Linked DNA regions of Homo sapiens. The protein of the gene in region 1 interacts with the protein of each later gene in a biochemical or structural test. Each region holds a gene or a part of one and is shown on either strand. Other genes may lie near its edges.

What was found. The genes of interacting proteins can lie anywhere in the genome.
Region 2: the proteins of MAGI2 (region 1) and CGN interact in a test that uses a peptide from one of them, tested with the Homo sapiens proteins (one large-scale study listed by IntAct).

Annotation. Positions count from the first base shown.
Region 1 is NC_000007.14:78,016,498-78,019,708, reverse strand, and holds the end of MAGI2 (membrane-associated guanylate kinase, WW and PDZ domain-containing protein 2), read left to right. Parts: coding exon 1-394; 3' UTR 395-2,654; downstream 2,655-3,211. UniProt on the Homo sapiens protein: Seems to act as a scaffold molecule at synaptic junctions by assembling neurotransmitter receptors and cell adhesion proteins. Plays a role in nerve growth factor (NGF)-induced recruitment of RAPGEF2 to late endosomes and neurite outgrowth.
Region 2 is NC_000001.11:151,535,282-151,539,035, reverse strand, and holds the end of CGN (cingulin), read right to left. Parts: intron 3,437-3,754; coding exon 3,353-3,436; intron 3,257-3,352; coding exon 3,138-3,256; intron 2,800-3,137; coding exon 2,691-2,799; intron 2,307-2,690; coding exon 2,143-2,306; intron 1,832-2,142; coding exon 1,690-1,831; 3' UTR 344-1,689; downstream 1-343. UniProt on the Homo sapiens protein: Probably plays a role in the formation and regulation of the tight junction (TJ) paracellular permeability barrier.

The DNA.
Region 1 (3,211 bases):
GCCGAGGCTCGAGGAGGCGCCCGGCGGCCAGGGGCGGCCCGAGGCCGGCAGGCCCGCCTCGGAGGCCAGGGCGCCCGGGCTCGCGGCGGCAGACGCGGCGGACGCGGCGCGGGCGGGCGGGAAGGAGGCGCCCCGTGCGGCGGCGGGCTCCGAGCTCTGCCGGCGCGAAGGCCCGGGGGCTGCGCCGGCGTTTGCCGGCCCGGGCGGCGGCGGCAGCGGCGCGCTGGAGGCCGAGGGCAGGGCGGGTGCGCGCGCGGGTCCCCGGCCGGGCCCGCGACCCCCGGGGGGCGCCCCGGCGCGCAAGGCCGCCGTCGCGCCGGGGCCCTGGAAGGTGCCGGGTTCTGACAAGCTGCCCAGCGTCCTCAAACCCGGCGCCTCGGCCGCCAGCAGATGAGCCGCGCGGCCACGGCCAACCCGCCCGCCCCGGCGCAGGCAGTTCTTCTTAGGTTCCGTCTCACGGCGTTTTAATTTATTTTCACTGTCACACGCATAGATCCACGAGGCACCAAGGCCTGGGAGCATCGACGTGAAGTCCCACGTGTCCGGTGTGCTTGGGCGGCATCGCATCAACGCGCAGACCTAAACTGATCCTAAAGCCCCCGGTTCCCTTGTGGGGGCTTTGGCAGCTATGGAAGAACCAAAATAACGTGAAGAACATCACAGAGAGACAGTGCAGTGTAGCTTTAGTTTAAGAAAAAAAAATATTCCTCCCCACTGCATGAAGGACTTGGATGTCATCCAAACTTTATATCAAGAAACAGGACAAAGTTAAGAGCAATCACAAACTGGAATATCGCCTTAAAAATCAAACTGCACGGAGCAAGCTGAAACTGAGACAAGATTATATCTTTTAATTGATCTAAAGCGTTGTAAATAAATTGTTCTCGACATATCTAGACAGGGGTTAAAGGGTTTCTTTGACACATTCGGAACCGTTCACCCATGACATGTTTCCATGGCTCACCCTTGGCATCCATCCTCGGTGTTAGCAGCAGCGTTCCCTGCCTCCTGCAGGATGACTTAGAAATCTAGTGAGTTTCTTGGTGTGATGCCATTTTTATTGCCCTTTCTGTGATCAAATCATATTTCTGTACATTTTCAGTGGTAGAAAAAAAAGGTTTTAAAAATTGTATCCTAGGGAACAGTTTGCCATAAGTCAGAATTTTGCAGTTTAGCTCATAGATCTTAATTGGTTTTTCTCTAAAATATGAATTTTATAATTGAAGGACCACAATTTGTTTAATCAAGATAGGCAACGCTGCAGTTCCTTTATGAAGAGGCTTTTCTGTCGTCCCAGGCTAGCAGAGATGGATAGCTTCTTTGTCAGCAATGTGATTTCACTTATTTTATTGTCTTATTTTAAACCCTGTCTCCATGACTTCATTTGCACTTTGACAGAGCAGAGGCAGAGTATTTGTCTTATATTTCTCAGATTATAATATTAAAAAATTACAATCAATTTATTTTCATTAAAGAACGTGAGTCTTTTTAGCATTCCTTTCTGCTTATCCTTCTTTCCTTACCCTTTGTCCTTTTGTTTCCATTAGTTTTCTTTCGTCTTGTATTCCTTGCCACTTTATTTTGTTAGCAACTTCTAGATGTTTATCTTCATGGATCTATGATTGACCTCCTAGTAAAATTCTAAGTCTTGCCTTTCTTCCCTGCTGTTTTAGCATTTCTTTGTAAAATGTTAGCTTCAATTAATTAGCCATTGGTACTTACTGTAGCTACACATATTAAAAGGCAAAGTGTTTCTGAAGGCAATTTCTTTTTAATATGCCCGAATGAATGAGGCTTCATCCTTTCCATATTCTTACTCTTTACAGGAGTTCAAATGCAAATAAGCTCCACCTCCCTGCACTTGTAGTCTAAAAAGTAAAAGGGGCGATCAGGTCCATCTCAAAGGTCACACGTAATAGCCTCCCTGGGCTGATCATTCCCTCTCCTTGTAATTGCAGTATCCTGAGTAGCAGTTTAATTTTCATCAAACATCGGAGTAGTTTAGTTGTTTGACAGGAGGAGAATAAGGCTGAAAGCCTCAAGTGAAGGATCTTGCAGCTTGTAAAAGCAATTTCCAAAAATGAAACCCATTCATCGTAAACAAAAGCACAAACACTTGTAGCAGTTTATAATGCTTTTGGTTTAATCTCAATTAGTCTTTCTCCCCTGGACTAGAAATCCAGTATAGTTTGCCATTAATTTATTGAATCTGGTTTTGGACAATGCTTCTGTAGTGTAGCTGCACGTCCTGGTACTGTATCCTCTGACTTTATTTTCCATGTATTACAAAAGGAAAAAAAAATTGAGATTACACTGGCATAAACTCTAGTTTGCACAGTTCACAGCTACTACTTGTGCAGTAATTGCTTTATGCGGCTGTAATCCATAACCTGTGAAGACAGCACATCATCTAAATCCCATTCCAAATAATATTTGTGTAGTGTTAGCTGTGAATTTACCCTGTACAGCTGTATCTCTATAAATATAATTCCATGTATTAATAGTCACAGAAAGACTGTAAGTGAGCAACTATTTTTATGAAACGTACCACTATGGATAAATTAACTTTTACAGAAATCTTGTTTACTGTATGATATTCTAAAACACTGTCAAATAAAATATATATCCAAAAATCTTTTCTTTTTCCAACTATATAGGCTGTGTGTTAATTTGAAATAGATTATTACTGGGGGTTAACTTAGTTTTTCAAAACTGCAGTTTTCATCGACTTTTTTTATTTTTGGAAGTATAAGTTTTAATGCCCCAAATAGGACTTTTTTGAAACTTGAATCTAAAAGCAGTGGCATTACATGGGAAAGATCATTGGCTTTTTTGGCCTAAGTAAACAGTTTTCTCAGTCTTGTTGATATTTGCTTGTCAGGTTACTACATCATTCATGAATTGGCTGTATATTTCTGTTGCTTGCTACATTGATCGATACTTTACCTTTTTTCAAAAAGGATTTAAAGTATCCATCTGTAATAAATTCCATCACATTTTTTCCTTTTAATTCTGAAATTTTCTCATGCAAAATCCCAAGGAGTTCATGCAGAAGCCAACATAGCAAGCAGCAGTGAACTGGTCCAAAATGAATGGTTGAATATAGCTTTTGTCATGTATTGCGATGCCTGTGGTAGGAAGGGAGAGTTCTGCTTGGCCCTTGGGTGATTACAACCCTGCCATCGAGGAGTTGACGATCGGAAGGAACAGT
Region 2 (3,754 bases), on another chromosome or scaffold:
GAGAATCGCTTGAACCCGGGAGGCAGAGGTTGCAGTGAGCTGAGATCATGCCATTACACTCCAGCCTGGGTGACAGAGTGAGACTCCGTCTCAAAAAAAAAAAAAAAAAAAAGGCATTTACTGTCCTTGTTCTTCCCAGAAGGTTGTTCAGGAGAGAAGAGAATGGGGCTGCTATAAACATCTCCAGGTTTCGTAGGTCCCATCTGCTCTGTTCTAAAGGGCCTCTGAAAAGTCAGGTGAAGAAAACTCCAGCTTCGGCTCCTAAGCTGTACAGTTAATATGACTTCATAAAATCTGGACCTCCAAATATGCCAAGAAAAAGAATGAGAAGACAAACCAAGGATTTCAATATAAATGTGTAATTTTAATATTTAATTTAAAATAAAACCAAGGCTGGATTGGATTGGGAAAGAACGTTTGATTTGCAGAAGAATATAGGAATTTTTTTAATCACGACATTACAAGTCATTTGTGAAAACAGCCTTCCTCCTGCCACCGGCTCCCTATACAACCTGCTTAGGAAATATGGAGGTGAATCATCCCCCTTACCTCTTCCCTACCAGGGCTTGGTTCTCCCCAAAATCCAAAGGAGAAATAAATGTCTTCCGTTGCCTCTTCCCATTTTTACAGTCAGCTTCTAACCCCTTGCAAAGCCCTGAATCAGAGCCAAGCACCTCAGAAAATGAGGGTCCCTTGGTTCTCTTATTGAAGTTGGGCACATGTGGTCAGAGAAGCCCCAAGGAAGGCCACAGGGACTGACACCTTTACTTTTGGAATTTGTGCAGCCAGTTGTCAGGGCTCCCAGGTGCAACCACCTTATAACCATATCCACAGTCACAGAGGAGGGAGAGGAGGAAGGATGAAAACCCTGAGCAGGACCAGACCCCCGCCACTTTATCATGACCCTACCAAAGTCCCTCTCCCAGGGGTCATTGGCAGAGAAACCCCAACAGCTCTCTCAATCAATCACTGGGGCAGCAGGGAAGGCTGAGGGCCCTGGCTGGGGAAAAGCTGGTCTTTGGAGAGGTATGAATGTGCAGATATAAAAAGCAAGAAGAGCATCCTTATCTCCTTGCCTTGGCTAAGGCACTGACAGGAAAAATGCAAGGTAGGAATGGCAAAGAGGGGAAAGGAAGAAGACAAAAATATAGGAACTGGAGGGGTATGGGGACTACCACATGGGCCCCATACTTGTGCAAAGAAATGGGTAGAGCCATGCCTGCATGTCTGTTACCCATAACATTCCCCTCACCCTGCTCCAGAGTGGAAGGAAAATGAGTTGCAGGAATCCAGGGAGCACAATAACATAGGGTATTTCCCTGAGCCTTAGGGTTAAGGGCTAAAGAATAAAGCTTTATACACATGGCAATTTCTATCCCTTCCTATCCTTCTCAGTCCCCATCAGCCTAATGCTGACCATCCTTCCACTATAAGAGAGATGAGGGAGGTGTCGGCACTTGAGGAAAAGGCTCAGTTGGCTTGAAATGTCCACTCCTACAGTGGAAAGTCCATCTATCAGCTTATTGCTGATGATTTTTTTTTTTTATCACCATCACTCTGACCCCTCCCTGTCTTAGGTCTGAATAATTGGGTCACCCATAGGAATGCAGAACCCAGGGTGGGCAGAGCAGAGCAGCACTTGCTGGGATAGGCCTCGAGCCTGGTTTCTGAGTCCTTGAGGACCACGAGCTAACAGGAGCTGGTCTGTAGGTTGCTCTCCGTAAGCAGTGATGCAATGGACGAGGGATCGTAGACACTGTCGAATTCCTCATCTGAGCTCAGCCCTTCGTTTTTGAGAGCTGACTCAGCAGCTGAGCGGGAAGCTTTGCGCCTGACTCAGAGAGAAGAATAATGGTTGGGGAGGGGAAAATAGAAATATTAAGACAGCCACCCTTTTTGTACAAAGGAAACCCCAATTCTTCTAAGGCCTAAAGTTTATTCACAAAATCCCCAACTAATCAGATTTGGGGAGGTACAGGATGGTGGCTGAGATACTAATAAATAAATATACTGGCTTCCAACCAGAAACAAGTGACTACACAGTACCATGTTAGAGATTCTCCTCCTTATCCAGCACAGGAGAGACCATTCCCTCCCTGCTCTAGTGTCCCTATGGAGCAAGGGCAAAAGGGTAGCCCATACCAGGAGTCCTTCTCCAGAGACTTGATCCGGGCCTGGAGCTGTTCATTGACCTCATGCTGCTCCTCCACCTCACGCTGGGCCTTCTTCCTCAGGCCGTCCAGTCGCTCAATTTCCTCTTCTGCTTCATCCACCTGACGCTTCAAAGCCTTCACCCTCAGGCTTAGCTGGGCAGGATACCAAGTCCACACATCTGAATAGCATCTACTACCATGGCCTGGGACCCTCCCCCATAACAATCTTGACAAGGTATAATTGCCGCTGGAAAAATGTGGCCTTGGGCAAGTTCCTTAACCTCACATGGTTGTCTTAGGGATTAAATGTATTAACACATGTGTAATACTTACAGAACCTAGCACATCATAAGCACTCAATATATACGCTTACCATGACTTCTCTAGTCTAGTCTTTTCAATCTAATCTCTGTCCTTATACAAGGAAAGTCTAAGTTTGGAGGACCTATAGGAGATAAGGGCCTCCCTTGGCTTTCAGGAAAACATATAATATATACCTGCCCCAGGTTGCTTGGCTCCAGGGTGCCATGTCCTCACCTGGTCTTTCTGGTCATTGACATGCTGCCGCTCGTCTTCAATCTGGATGGATAGTTCTTTAACTTTCCGCTCCAGTTTTCGATTGGTAGACTGCAGAACTGTCTTCTCCCTAAGGTGAGGTAGAAGAATGTCTATGAGTGTCCCCATTTCTAAGGGAATCCTAACTTGGCCCCCTACTGTCCCCAAGGACTCCTCTCAGCCATGAGCTCCACCATTAGACTGGGCAGGATCCAGGGCAGATTCAAAGAATGAGGGAGAGTGACGTCATTCACATTTCAGAATTTCTGCAACACTCTTTGCTCTCTATCAGGAGAAAGTGTTCCCTAAAGATCAGGCCAGGCTGGCCATATCTGAGGTGGAAGATGGAGGGAGCCACAGAGGAGAAAAGCCAAGAGGGAGGGAGGAAGAAAAGGAGGGAGGAAGGGAGGAAGGATAGGCTTATGTCACCTCTCTTCAGCCTGTAGCCGCTCCTGCAACAACTGATTCTGGGACTCAAGCTGAGAGAGGCTGGCACTAGGCTTCTGGAAGCCTTCTGAGCTGGCCAACCGGGTCTTCAGGTCCTTGTTCTGAGAGGGACAGGAAGCCTCCACAGTTAGCACTCCACTGGCCATTTTACTCACCTCCTGGGGTCCATCCCTAAGAATCCTCCCCTCCCCCATCACCTGTCTCTCCAAGGAGATTTTGTCACACTCCAGGTCCTGCCGAGCAGACCTTTCCTGCATGAGCTCTGTCCTCAGCTGATCCACCTAGTGGGGATGGGTGAGAGGACCAGACTTGGGGAGGGCTAAGGATGAACCAGCAAGCTGAACAAAGTGAGGCTGAGTCATGGGAGGATGGTCTCTGAACCCTGAATCCAAAAATTCCCAGGCAACTAAAAAATCACAGCCTATTCAAATGGGAGGGGCCAGAGAATGCAAACAGAGCCTCCTTCGTCCCTCCAGGAACTAGTATCCCTTGTAAACCAAAGAAGCCCCAATTCAGGTCAGAGAACAGCCCAGGCCACCAGGATCCCTTCCTCCATGCAAATCATTGGCTTCTTTCCACCCAAGGAAACTGGCCAACCT